Regions from separate parts of the Homo sapiens genome. Here region 1 is linked to region 2. The links come from fine-mapping of genetic effects on gene expression. A gene starts in region 2. The other region holds a variant in brackets. All regions are shown on one strand. Distances are between the middles of the regions. Region 1 has its middle 61 kb from the start of ASIC2. Region 2 holds the start of ASIC2 (acid sensing ion channel subunit 2).

Evidence for each region.
Region 1: its variant is fine-mapped to the expression of ASIC2 in tibial nerve (GTEx, PIP above 0.99).

The regions. Positions count from the first base shown.
Region 1 is chr17:33,351,970-33,357,341 of GRCh38, forward strand. It overlaps a transcript of ASIC2 not described here. Among named protein-coding and RNA genes, the nearest start is that of ASIC2, 61 kb to the left of the region's middle. The variant C/T (reference allele first, on the strand shown) is at 2,857.
Region 2 is chr17:33,290,305-33,295,676 of GRCh38, forward strand. It overlaps ASIC2 (acid sensing ion channel subunit 2), which reads right to left and starts at 2,991. Exons shown (of 10, transcript NM_183377.2): 1 at 1,104-2,991. The coding sequence starts at 1,811. RefSeq lists a silencer at 2,018-2,188.

The sequences.
Region 1 (5,372 bases), 62 kb after region 2:
CTTCCTTCTGCATGCTCAGGACTCACCGCCTGTCTGATGTCTGCTCCTCAGCCTCCTAGATGGTCCTCCCCTTGAGTGTTTTGTCTTGTGTCTTCATCTCTTTGCTTCCTACTCCCTGGGTTAGCACCTCCACTCCCACAGCTACAAATGCCACCCCTCTGAGCATGGTTCCTCAGTCTCTATCTGTAGCTAAAATCTCCAACTTCTTCCATCTGAATCTCGACTTTACCTGGATACCTGGCAGGGACTTCAAAATCAACATGCCCAGAACTGAACTCACACTGCATCCCACTCCTTCCAGGTCACCCATCTTGGTGACTAGCCCTGTTCTCTCCTCAGGCACAATAGTCCAGATATCTCAGAAGTGCCCAGTGAGCCCCCTCCATGAGATGCACTTGAAGCCAGCCCATTACCCCCCAAGGCTGCCACCCCCTACATGGGAGGCCCTTCTTACCTTGTGCTTGCACCTCTTACTAATGATGAGGCCTGGGCTGACTAACATGGCTCTCCCTGCTTTTGTAAAATGAGAAGCTTTAGAGAAGATGATCTCAGAAGACCCTTCTGACCCTATCTGTCTTTATTTCAGTTATCATCCATCGAACTCTGTGGCTCAAAACCTTGCAATAGTCTTGACCCTGGATTGTCCAAACCACCCTCCCAACTTTGCAAGACTGGAGAAAATCCTGTGATGTTCTCCATGACTGACTCCTGCTGCCTTCCTTGCTGGCCTCCACACCACCCTCATGCTTTCAGTTTCAGTGTGCAAGGTGCATGCACCTCAACACTCAGCAGGTCCTCACGTTCACCTGCTGCCTCTCAGGCTCCATCCTGTGCAGTTTCTCTTCGGCTGTTAGAGTTTCTCTCCCTCTTTCCCTTCCTGGCCTTCTCTCATGCCCCTTACCTTCTCTTTCCCATGGTCTGTTGGGTGAACCCTCCCTCATTCTTCAAGGTTCAGATCAAGCCTCACTCTTCACAATACCCGACCCCAGAGCTAATATCTGTAGCACTGTTTCAGTAGAGATGCACCAATAACATTTACCCATCTGCCTCTCCACTGGATTCTGAGCTCCTTAAGCGTCCTGACTTTGCATTCCCAGAGCCCAGCACAATACTTGCACAAAATTCAGGTTCAATAATTGTATTGTGATTGAATGGCTCCCTAAATCTATAATATTCAATCTCATTAATTTGGCATTTTTAAGACTCTTTCCATTCCAGATCCACCAAACTGTTAGCTGTTTCCCTTAAAGTGCATTTTACTTAGACATTCACCCTTCCATAATCATGCACTGAACATGCCCATTGCCGTGGTGGGAACTTTTGACCCTCGACCTCTACCTGTCTCATGCCCATAAGTCTCTATCTATTCTTTTTTGTTTGTTTTTGAGACAGGGTCTTGCTCTGTCACCCAGGCTGGAGTGCAGTGGTGCAATCACTGCTCACTGCACCCTTGATCTGGGTTCAAGCAATTCTTCCACCTCAGCCTCCTGAGTAGCTGAAACTACAGGTATATGCCACTGCACCTGGCTAATATATATATTTTTAATTTTGTAGAAACAGGGTTTCACTATGTTGCCAGGACTGGTCTCAAACTCCTGGGCTCAAGTGATCCTCCTACCTCAGACTCCCAAATTTTGGAATTACAAGCGTGAGCCACCATGCCTAACCTTACCTTATTTATTCTTTAAGGCCCAGCCAAATGTCACTTTTTCCTCTTCCTATTCTGGATCCAGGAGTGACCTCTTCTTCCTAGGAGTCCCATAGGTCTTGGAACCATTTTTATGATCCTCAGTTCTTTGGGTGTTATAATAGAGTGATTCAGTCAATTAATTCATCTTTAAATACATGTTCTTCAGGGCTGCTCTGACCAAGCACAGGGTCTCCATCAAGGCTATACTTGCCATGTGTATCTTAGAGTATTAGCCCATTCTCTTGCTGTGAATAAAGACATACCTAAGACTGGGTAATTTATAAAGGAAATAGGTTTAATGGACTCACAGTTCCACATGGCTGGGGAGGCCTCACATTCATGTTGGAAGGCAAAAGAGGAGCAAAGGCATGTCTTACATGGTGCGGGCAAGAGGGCATATGCAGGGGAACTCATCTTTATAAAACCTTCAGATTTGGTGAGACTTATTCACTATCATGAGAACATCATGGAAAAGACCTGCCTCCATGATTCAATTACCTCCCACTGAGTCTGTCCCACAACATGTGGGAATTATCACAATTCAAGATGACATTTGGCTGGGGACACAGAGCCAAACCATATCACATGAGTCTCCTCAAGATCTCTACCAATGGTGGTTCATGACGGTCTTTAAATCCACTCATCCTCATGCTCTCCATCCCCACTATGAGCCCCCTGGAGGAGATCCCTCATCTCTCACCTGGACCAGAGCAATAGCTTCCTAACTGGTCTTCTCACCTCCACTGCAGCCAGCATGAAATATAACTATGCAAATGTGACCAAGCTATCCCCCACATAAGATCCTTCAGTGACTTCCCACTGCTCTTGGGATAGAGGCCTAAACCCTCAGCCAGGTCTATTCCACCAGCTCTCCCTGCAGCCCTACCCCCATGGCTTCCTGCTTGCTCTCTGCTTTCCAGCAGTGTGGTCCTTCTATGTGCTCTGGGTTCCTTCCCACTCCAGCCTGGGCCCAGGCTCTTCCTCTACTGGGAACATTCTTTCTTCAGCTTTCCCAGGGATCTGATGGGCCCCTACTCATCCTTCCAGTCTCAACTCAACATCACTTTTGCTCCTGGTTTCCACTCCTATGGCAGCTCCCCTGTTTATATGCTCAGCATTTATCCCAGTTTGTCAGCCTCCTAGGATGATTACTTGAAGGCAGAGCT[C/T]GTGTCCTTTTATTTACCATTGCCCTCTCCCCTCTGCCTCTGTCCCCACACATGTGCACCTATTTCCATGTCCAGCAGAGAGCAGGCACCCAGTACACATCTGCTGAATGCGTGCTGACATTCATGGGCTGCCCTTAACAGACTGGGAGCAGCCTGTGGGCAGGAGATGCAGCTTATTAATCTTGGTTGGAAACAGCAAGTTGTGTTGTGTCCATGTGTGTAAGTGTGGGTATGTGTATATTCGGAGTGCTAATTGGTGCCAGATAAAACAAAAAGCAATGTGGATCACCTGAGATCAGGAGTTTGAGACCAGCCTGGCTAACATGGTGAAACCCCAACTCTACTAAAGTTATAAAAATTAGCTGGGTGTGGTGGCATGTGCTTGTAGTCCCAACTACTCGGGAAGCTGAGGCAGGACAATCACTTGAACCCAGGAAAGGCAGAGGTTGCAGTGAGCCAAGATTGTGCCACTGCACTCCAGCGTGGACAACACAAGACTCCGTTTCAAAAAAGAAAAAGCAATGAAGCCCATGTACAGGAATGTGAGAATGTGAGAAACAGATTCAGAGAAGCAGTCTGGGGGTCAAAGCCCATCTGAGCAAAAAACAGTAAAGCAGTGCCTAGGTTTCCATTGCATAGTGTCCTGAGAAATTTTCTGGAGCAGGATTTGGCATGGGGGTGTTTAGATGGGGGCGGGGGCTTTAAAGACCCAGGCTCCTTCCTCCCTTTTGAATTTCTTAAATGCACAGCTTTTAAGATTGTAAATTATTTGATTGTAAGGAGCATATTTTATCTATCTTGGTTTCCTCTGTTCCCATAACAACCCTTGATAAATAGTAGAAGTTTCATAAATGTTTGCTGAATTGGATTGACTTTATCCTAATCATAGCCTGAGCCCTGGTAAGATCTGTTTATTCATTCAACATTTACTGTTTATCTACTATTCATTCATTCTTTCAACATTTTTTGCATACCTACTAATTGCTAGGCAATGGGGCTACAGCTGTGAACGAGGCAAAGTTTCTTGTTTGCTCAGAGCTTAAAGTGTAAGGGGAATTGAGACAGTATAATCAGTACTGAAGTAGGAATGATCAGGGGAAAAGGGATCCCAGAGAAGGGTAAACGAACCTAGACCTGGAGCTAGGGGTAGTGGTCAGGGAAGGCTTCCTGGAGGAAGTGACTTCCAAGATGAGGCCTGACAAATGAGTAGGAGACAACCCAGAGTAGGGGATAAGCGTGAAGAGTATTTAAGTCAGAGAAACAGCATGTGTAAAAGTTAGAGAACTCCACATCATTCACTGATTCACCAAGGCAGGTGTGAAGGATAGGGGTAGGGTAGCAGTGAGTGATGAGGCTGGCCCCTGAGTGACACCTGGCCTGATTATAGAAAGTGCTGGGCCAGGTACTTTAATTAATTCTTTTCTATTAAGGCTTCAGGACAACCCTATAAGGCATGGATCATCATTCCATTTTATTCAGATAGAACTCAAGAAAATTCAGGGGCTCAAGGAAGTTCTCCCAGTTGGTTAGCAGTGGGGCCAGGCTTCAGATCTATGTCCCAGGGCTTTCCCACCCCTGAACCACCTCCAGATTCTGAGGCTATGCAAGAGGAAAGGCATTCATGCTGGGCGGACATTGGACCAGAAACACAAGCACACCCCTCCCTGATGATGTGGGTGCAATCTGCATTCCTAGGCTCACTGGCTGGTCTCCACCATAATTACTATCTTCTGTGTGCCACCTGGATGGAGCAGGAAGGGGAACTAGAAAGGCCACCACTACAGACAGCACTTTTAACACGGAGCGTGTTAACCTCTTGTCTTAATAGTATTCAAATGAGGCCCCCAACCCAGTGCACTCAGGGCCAACACCTGGCTGCACAATTTGGATGGAGCGCCTCAGTCCCGAGGAGCATGAAGATCTCATTATGTAATTAGGTCTTTGGAAAATGAGCTATTATTCTTTGGCTCTGCAATCACGGGCTTGATGCAGCTTAGGGATCCAAGGGGATGCTGGGGGTGTGTGTCTGTTGCTCACTGCTGCTGCTGCATGAAGACTGTTACAGAGCAAGACATCTCCAGAACGTCCCAACCTCTGGGAGGAAGGAAGCGGGACTTCTTTCCTCATCTTCCAACAGGGAACAGCTTAGGGATTAGGGACCGTCTAGATCGGTGGTTCTCAAACTTCTTTGAGCATCAGAATCCCCTGGAGGTAGAGCCCAGCAACCTATGCTTTAACAGTTCCTCCAGGGAGTTTACTTCAGAAGATTGTAATTATGGTAGAGACCAGCCAGTGATCTGGGGACCGCACGTTGAGAACGGGGCCCTCTGGAGTAAACTGAGGCACCACCTAATCCCCAGCTTCCTCAGGAAGTCCCTCCAAGTCCTCACCATCAGATCTGAACTCCTCATTGTTCACATATGCACAGGGGGTACAGTTGAGCTTCAAAGTTTAGCGAGGGAGAGAAGAAGGACAGGTGTTATTCCTATTTTTCATATCAGGAAGCTGAAGCCCAG
Region 2 (5,372 bases):
CTCAGGAGTGATGAATCAGATCTGGTAAAATCACCATCATAGCACTACCAATAAACACACACACCAACCTTCCCTGCACTAGTGGAAAAGCCCAAACCCACCTAAGGGACATTTACACACGAATGGCTGGACAGGCATGCATCATGCTGGGGCCTGGCACCAGAACTCCTCCAAGGCAGACTGCACAAGGCAGATACCTTCTGTCCAACAGCTGCGTTATCCAGACCCACAGCGTGGGGGAACCGGCACAGCAAATGGTTTACAAACCCTAAGCACAGCTTCTCCTGGCCGCGGCTGTTTGCATCCACATGCCTGCTAGGATGCTTTCTCAACTCCGGAGCAATCCTCCAGACCAGAAGACCCACACTTACATTTTATGGGGGACGGAGGCCAGGTGAAGGGCCCAACCCTGGCGCACCACTGCTCAGTTCCGCTGGATGCTCAAGACTCCTGCATTTTGAAAAAGTAGCCAAAGCATGCTGCTGCCTCTCCCACCAAACTGTCTACAGCTTCAGTGTTGGTTTTCTGGGAGTTTCCTCACAAGTTCTCCTAGATTCTAAGTGTTTGGGAACTTTGAAGACATAAGCTGCTTCGGATCGTAGGCCTGCTTAGGGACTCTGCGTGATTCCCCTGATGATCCATTTTTCAAGCGCTTCCTTTTTTTTTTTTTTTTTTTTAAGAGCCGTCTATTGGTTTTCCCAAAGACAAGAAGTCCGCACTTAAGAGATCTACACTCCAAACACAGAGCAGTTTCTTGGAGTCCTGAGGGCCTGGAGTTGAGGTCGGGAAGAAGGAGGCTGACTAATATTCACAGACGGGACCATAAGGAGTAGAATGAGGGCTTTGGGGGCTGACACTGGAAGGAGGGGCTGGGACAGGGGAGCTCCCACTGGTGGGAGGCGACTCCTCCTACAGTTAAGTCCAAGTTCCCACAACCTGCAGGAGAAGACTCAGGGGACCCAAGAATGGGTTCTGCCTTGGCATCGTGGAGTGGTAACACTGCAAGAGGCCTGGGGACAGCCCCGAGGGGGCGGAACACCAGGCCTCCTGACTGCCGGGGAGTGGGGCGCAGAGGGAGCGGGTTCGCGCGGAGGGCAACTCACGGAGGAGAAGTTGTGCGGCCCGCAGAGCTCGCCGCGGTACTTGCAGGAGAGCAGCATGTCCTCCAGCTGGTGGCCCAGGCGGTCCATGAAGGCGGCGCTGATTCCCTCGAAGTGGCGCGGAGGCAGGAAGAGGCGGAAGTCCGCCAGCTTGCGGAACCACTGGCGGCGCGGCTCGTCGCCCCGCAGCAGCTCGCTGACAAGCGGGCGCGCGGTGCGGTTGGGCAGCAGCAGCCCGAGCCAGTGGCCGGCATAGTAGAGGTCCCCCTTGGAGAGGCGCGGGAAGCGCAGCGGGTTGTTGTTGCACACAGTGACGGCGGGGAAGGGTAACTGGCGGCTCCACTCGCGGTGCACCCGCGTGTGTGACGGGAAGCTGAGCCAGTAGAGCAAGCGGTTCGAGGACCAGGACAGCAGCAAGCCGAAGGATGTACAGAAGGCCAGCACCCACAGCGCCCGCCGCTGGAAGGAGCCCCCAGCCGCCGTGCGCCCGGCACACATGTGCCGCAGCCCGTGCAGTTTAGCGCGGCTCAGCGATGGCCGCCCCCTGCGGGCGACCCCTGGCCCCTGCAGCGCCCGCTCGCCGCCTCTGCCGCCCCCGGGCTGCCCGGCAGCCGCCAACGCCGCGGGCGCCGGCTCCTCGCGGGCCATGCGGAAGCGTCCCGGGCCGGTGAGCGCGGCTGCGGGCAGCCCGGCTCCGCCAATCCGGCTCATTCATTCAGCCCGCGGCTGGCGGCAGCGGCGGCGGCCCCGGCCGGGCGGAGCCGCCATGGGAGTCCGCAGCAGCAGTGGAAGCAGCAGCAGCGGCAGCCGCGCGCAGCCCGCGCCAGGGAAGCGTGCGCCCGAAAGGAGCTCCGGTGGCGCGGCATGCCCGCCCGGCGCCGCCGCTGCCGCCTCCGCGGGCGCCCGCCCGGGGCTGAGCGCCGCCTCAGCCCGCAGCCCCTGGCAGTGGCCTCTCCCGAGCGCCTCCCAGGCTTTCCCGGCCCCTGGTCTTCCTGGAGGATGCCCGGCGCCCGGCACTACTTCTGGAGGGGTCCCACTGGGAGCCGCCTCTCCAGTCCCTGGGTGCTGCGCCCGCCTTCCCTCGTCCTGGACCTCGGGGGACCCTGAGCCGAGTCCCCCCTGCCCCGCCTAACCCCAGCTTTTACGCTGGTCCTGGGAGAAGGGCCACTCGGCCACCATGCCTGATCTGGACATCCCCAGGGACCCCACCAGCCCGGCCCGTAGCCCAGCGGTGCTGGGACACGGGAGAGAAGGCGCCAAGGAACGAGCGCCCCCAGAGGCGCACCGCGGCTCCTGGCTGGGCGGGCGGGGTGGGTGTGTACGGGGGTGAGTGGTCGCCTTGCCGGCTGCCGCCTTCTTTCCCTTCCCCTCCAGGACCCTTCCTTGTTACTGCTCCCTGGGCTGCGCTCGGCAGAGACCTGCTTAGGCTTCCCCAAGTCCTGCGCCTAAGTCCTGCCAGGCGCCCGCTCTCGCCTGGGGCTGAGAGCTTCTCAGGGCGTCCTGCGGGAGGCTGTTCGCCGCCGGGGTCCTTCAAGGATGCTAGCCGCAGGGAAGTGTCGCTTCTCGCCTCGGCTCTCCCAGGTGCCTCGCGTCTCCAGAAAAGCCCAGCCTTGCTGTCTCTCGCGTCTTCTCTCTGCCCCCGCGGCGACAAGAGCTGGGGACTGCGGGGACCCGCCAACACCTCCCGGGGGTGACCCGGACTCGCTGCTCCGCGCGCCCTTCTCCTCTCGAGACTCCGAGCTCGCGGTGGCCGTGACGCCGGCTAAGCTCCTTCCCCGGTTGCCCGGGAGAACCCTCTTTGGGCCCCAGGCGAACTTGGGCAGCGGCCGCGCGACGCTGGCGCGGCTGGGCTCCGAGCACCTGCTCCTCAGCTCGCTGGCCCCGCGGCTCCGGGCGGGCGGGGCGGCGGCGGCCGTGAGCGCCGTGCGCTCCTGGAGACGCGGTGCTGACGCGCCCGGCTCCTCCTCGCTGCATTTTAATTCCTGGCCACTGTGGCCGCTGCACACCGAGCGGGAAGCCTCTTGCTGGAGTCGGCCGGGTGCGGGGGTGGGGTGTGGTGGGGAGCGGGATGGGGATGCGCTGTACAGATGTGCTCAGGTGTATGGGCTTGTGGGAGAGATAAGTAGTATAACCATTGTGCTGATGTGGCCCCAGTGTAGACAGGGGTGAGAGGACTCCTGAGGGTGTGAGATGGGCTGTAGAGAGAGCGAGTTGCTGTGTAGTGTGGGCATTTGAACACGATTGCGAGTGTGGTGCCAAGTATTGGGTGTGCGTAGGATGTGCATTGTGTATGTGTGAATGGGCATTTCTGTGAAACTCTTGAATGTGAGCATGTCTGCGGGTGGCGTGCTGTGGCCATTAGAGTGTGGTGCATGCAGGATGTAGTGTCTATGGTGACGTGTATGTTCCGTGTGTGTATGTGTGCACTTAGTGAGTCCTGGGTTTGAAATGCATGTGTTGATGTGTGGATGGATATCAGGGTTTCTAGATGTGGTGTGTGGTTGGTGTGTTTTGTGTGTGTGTGTATGTGCATGTGTTGTATGTAATGAGTATGTGTGTTGAGGCATTGCGAGCAGGGTAGGCTCAGTGCGACAATCCTCCCCTCAGCCTCTTAGGGACATCCCATGTGTGTCCCAGCCCCTTCCCTGGAAGTGCCTACTGCTCAGCCCTGGCCCAGTCTGCCAAGCACAGCTCTCCAAGAGGGTGGGAAGGGGGAGTAGGACTTCCAGGGACAGGAGACTCCATCTTTCCCATTCCCCTTGCTGGGACAGGGAACACTTGGAGCCCCATTACTCCATGAGATAAAGGGGTTTTCCAGACATTATCCGGAGAGTAGAATTTGGTGGTGGAGGCAGTGTGAAGGGACTCCAAGGGTGGGAGGATGCTCCAGTGGAAGAAGGACCAACGTGTGTATCCTTTGGGGAGAGGAGGCTTGGGGAAGCAGAGATTTGGGTGTGGAGAGGAGTTTTACCGTCTTTGTAATGATGAATTAGGGGCAATTTGGCCAGATCTGTTGAATGAGCTGTGGGTTTCCAAGCAGGAGAGAAGCAGTGCTGGGATGGGCTTTCCCTCCCCACTGACCTGAGGGCACCCTTACAGCGTGATGACTCCCTGCATCTGGTCTCTGGAGAAGAGGACCTCTGAGCCCCTCATTTCCCACTCACCCACATACATACATCCACACAGTCACACATGTACAAGCACACATATACACAAACACACACACACACTACACATACAACACACATATACATGAACATACATGTATACCAACATATACACTTAAATGCATATATACCCAATGCATACTGCATACATACATACACACAACACACATACATATACACAACACACACACACCTGGAAACCCTTCTCACTCATCTGGGGAAAAAGCTATTGCAGTTGGGCATTGATGACAGTTTGCTTTGGGTTTGGTTGCTTGAAGATGTCTGTTGCTGGCTTTGAGGGGAGGGTTCTGAAGCTGCCTGCTGTACTGGGGCCTCTACCAAAGGCTCATACTCCAGTGCTCCCAGCCTGGTCTCAAGGGTCCTGGAAATGCCACAGTGACCCGTGTCTTGGCCAAGGTGGGGTGACCTAGTGACCTCAGTGCAGTTACTGATGAAGCAACCAGGACAAGCATGTGCCATCTTCCAGCATCATAAATCTGGAGTGGCATGAAGCTCTATTTTATAAAAGCCTTTAAAACATTTTGGGTTTCTGATGTGTTCAGCTGTTGTGGGCTTGCTCTTTCCTAGCTATTTCCCCCTTGAAATGTACATGTGCTACTTTTGATTGACCAACTGTCTTCTCTGCCATGGGATTTCCTGTGAATTCTCCAGATGGTAGCTCTTTCAGGGAGAGGAGGGGTATCCTGCTTAGGCCTCAAGGGGCCTTGACACAGAAATCTAGAGAAAGACACACGGGCAGCTAGTGACTCCAAGCAATGATTGATGGCTCTCTTTATGGCACATGTATGCAGCACATTCTCTATGCAACTTGAAATACTCCCACCCTCTTCTCTGACCAGTTCTTTGACCAGCCCAGTGAAATTCTGTTCTTTCTTCAAATCACAGCTTATGCATTGCCTCCTAGGTCAAGGTTTCCTTGATTCTCCCAGACAAACTTGGGTCATGTTTTTCCTATGATCCCAGCATACCTTGGAAGATTGATACCTCTAGGATAGCCCTTATCATTGTTTGTGTCCAAGCCTTTCTGCTGGACTATGACCCGTTTGCAGACAGGGACTACACCTCCTTCATATTTGTATCCCTA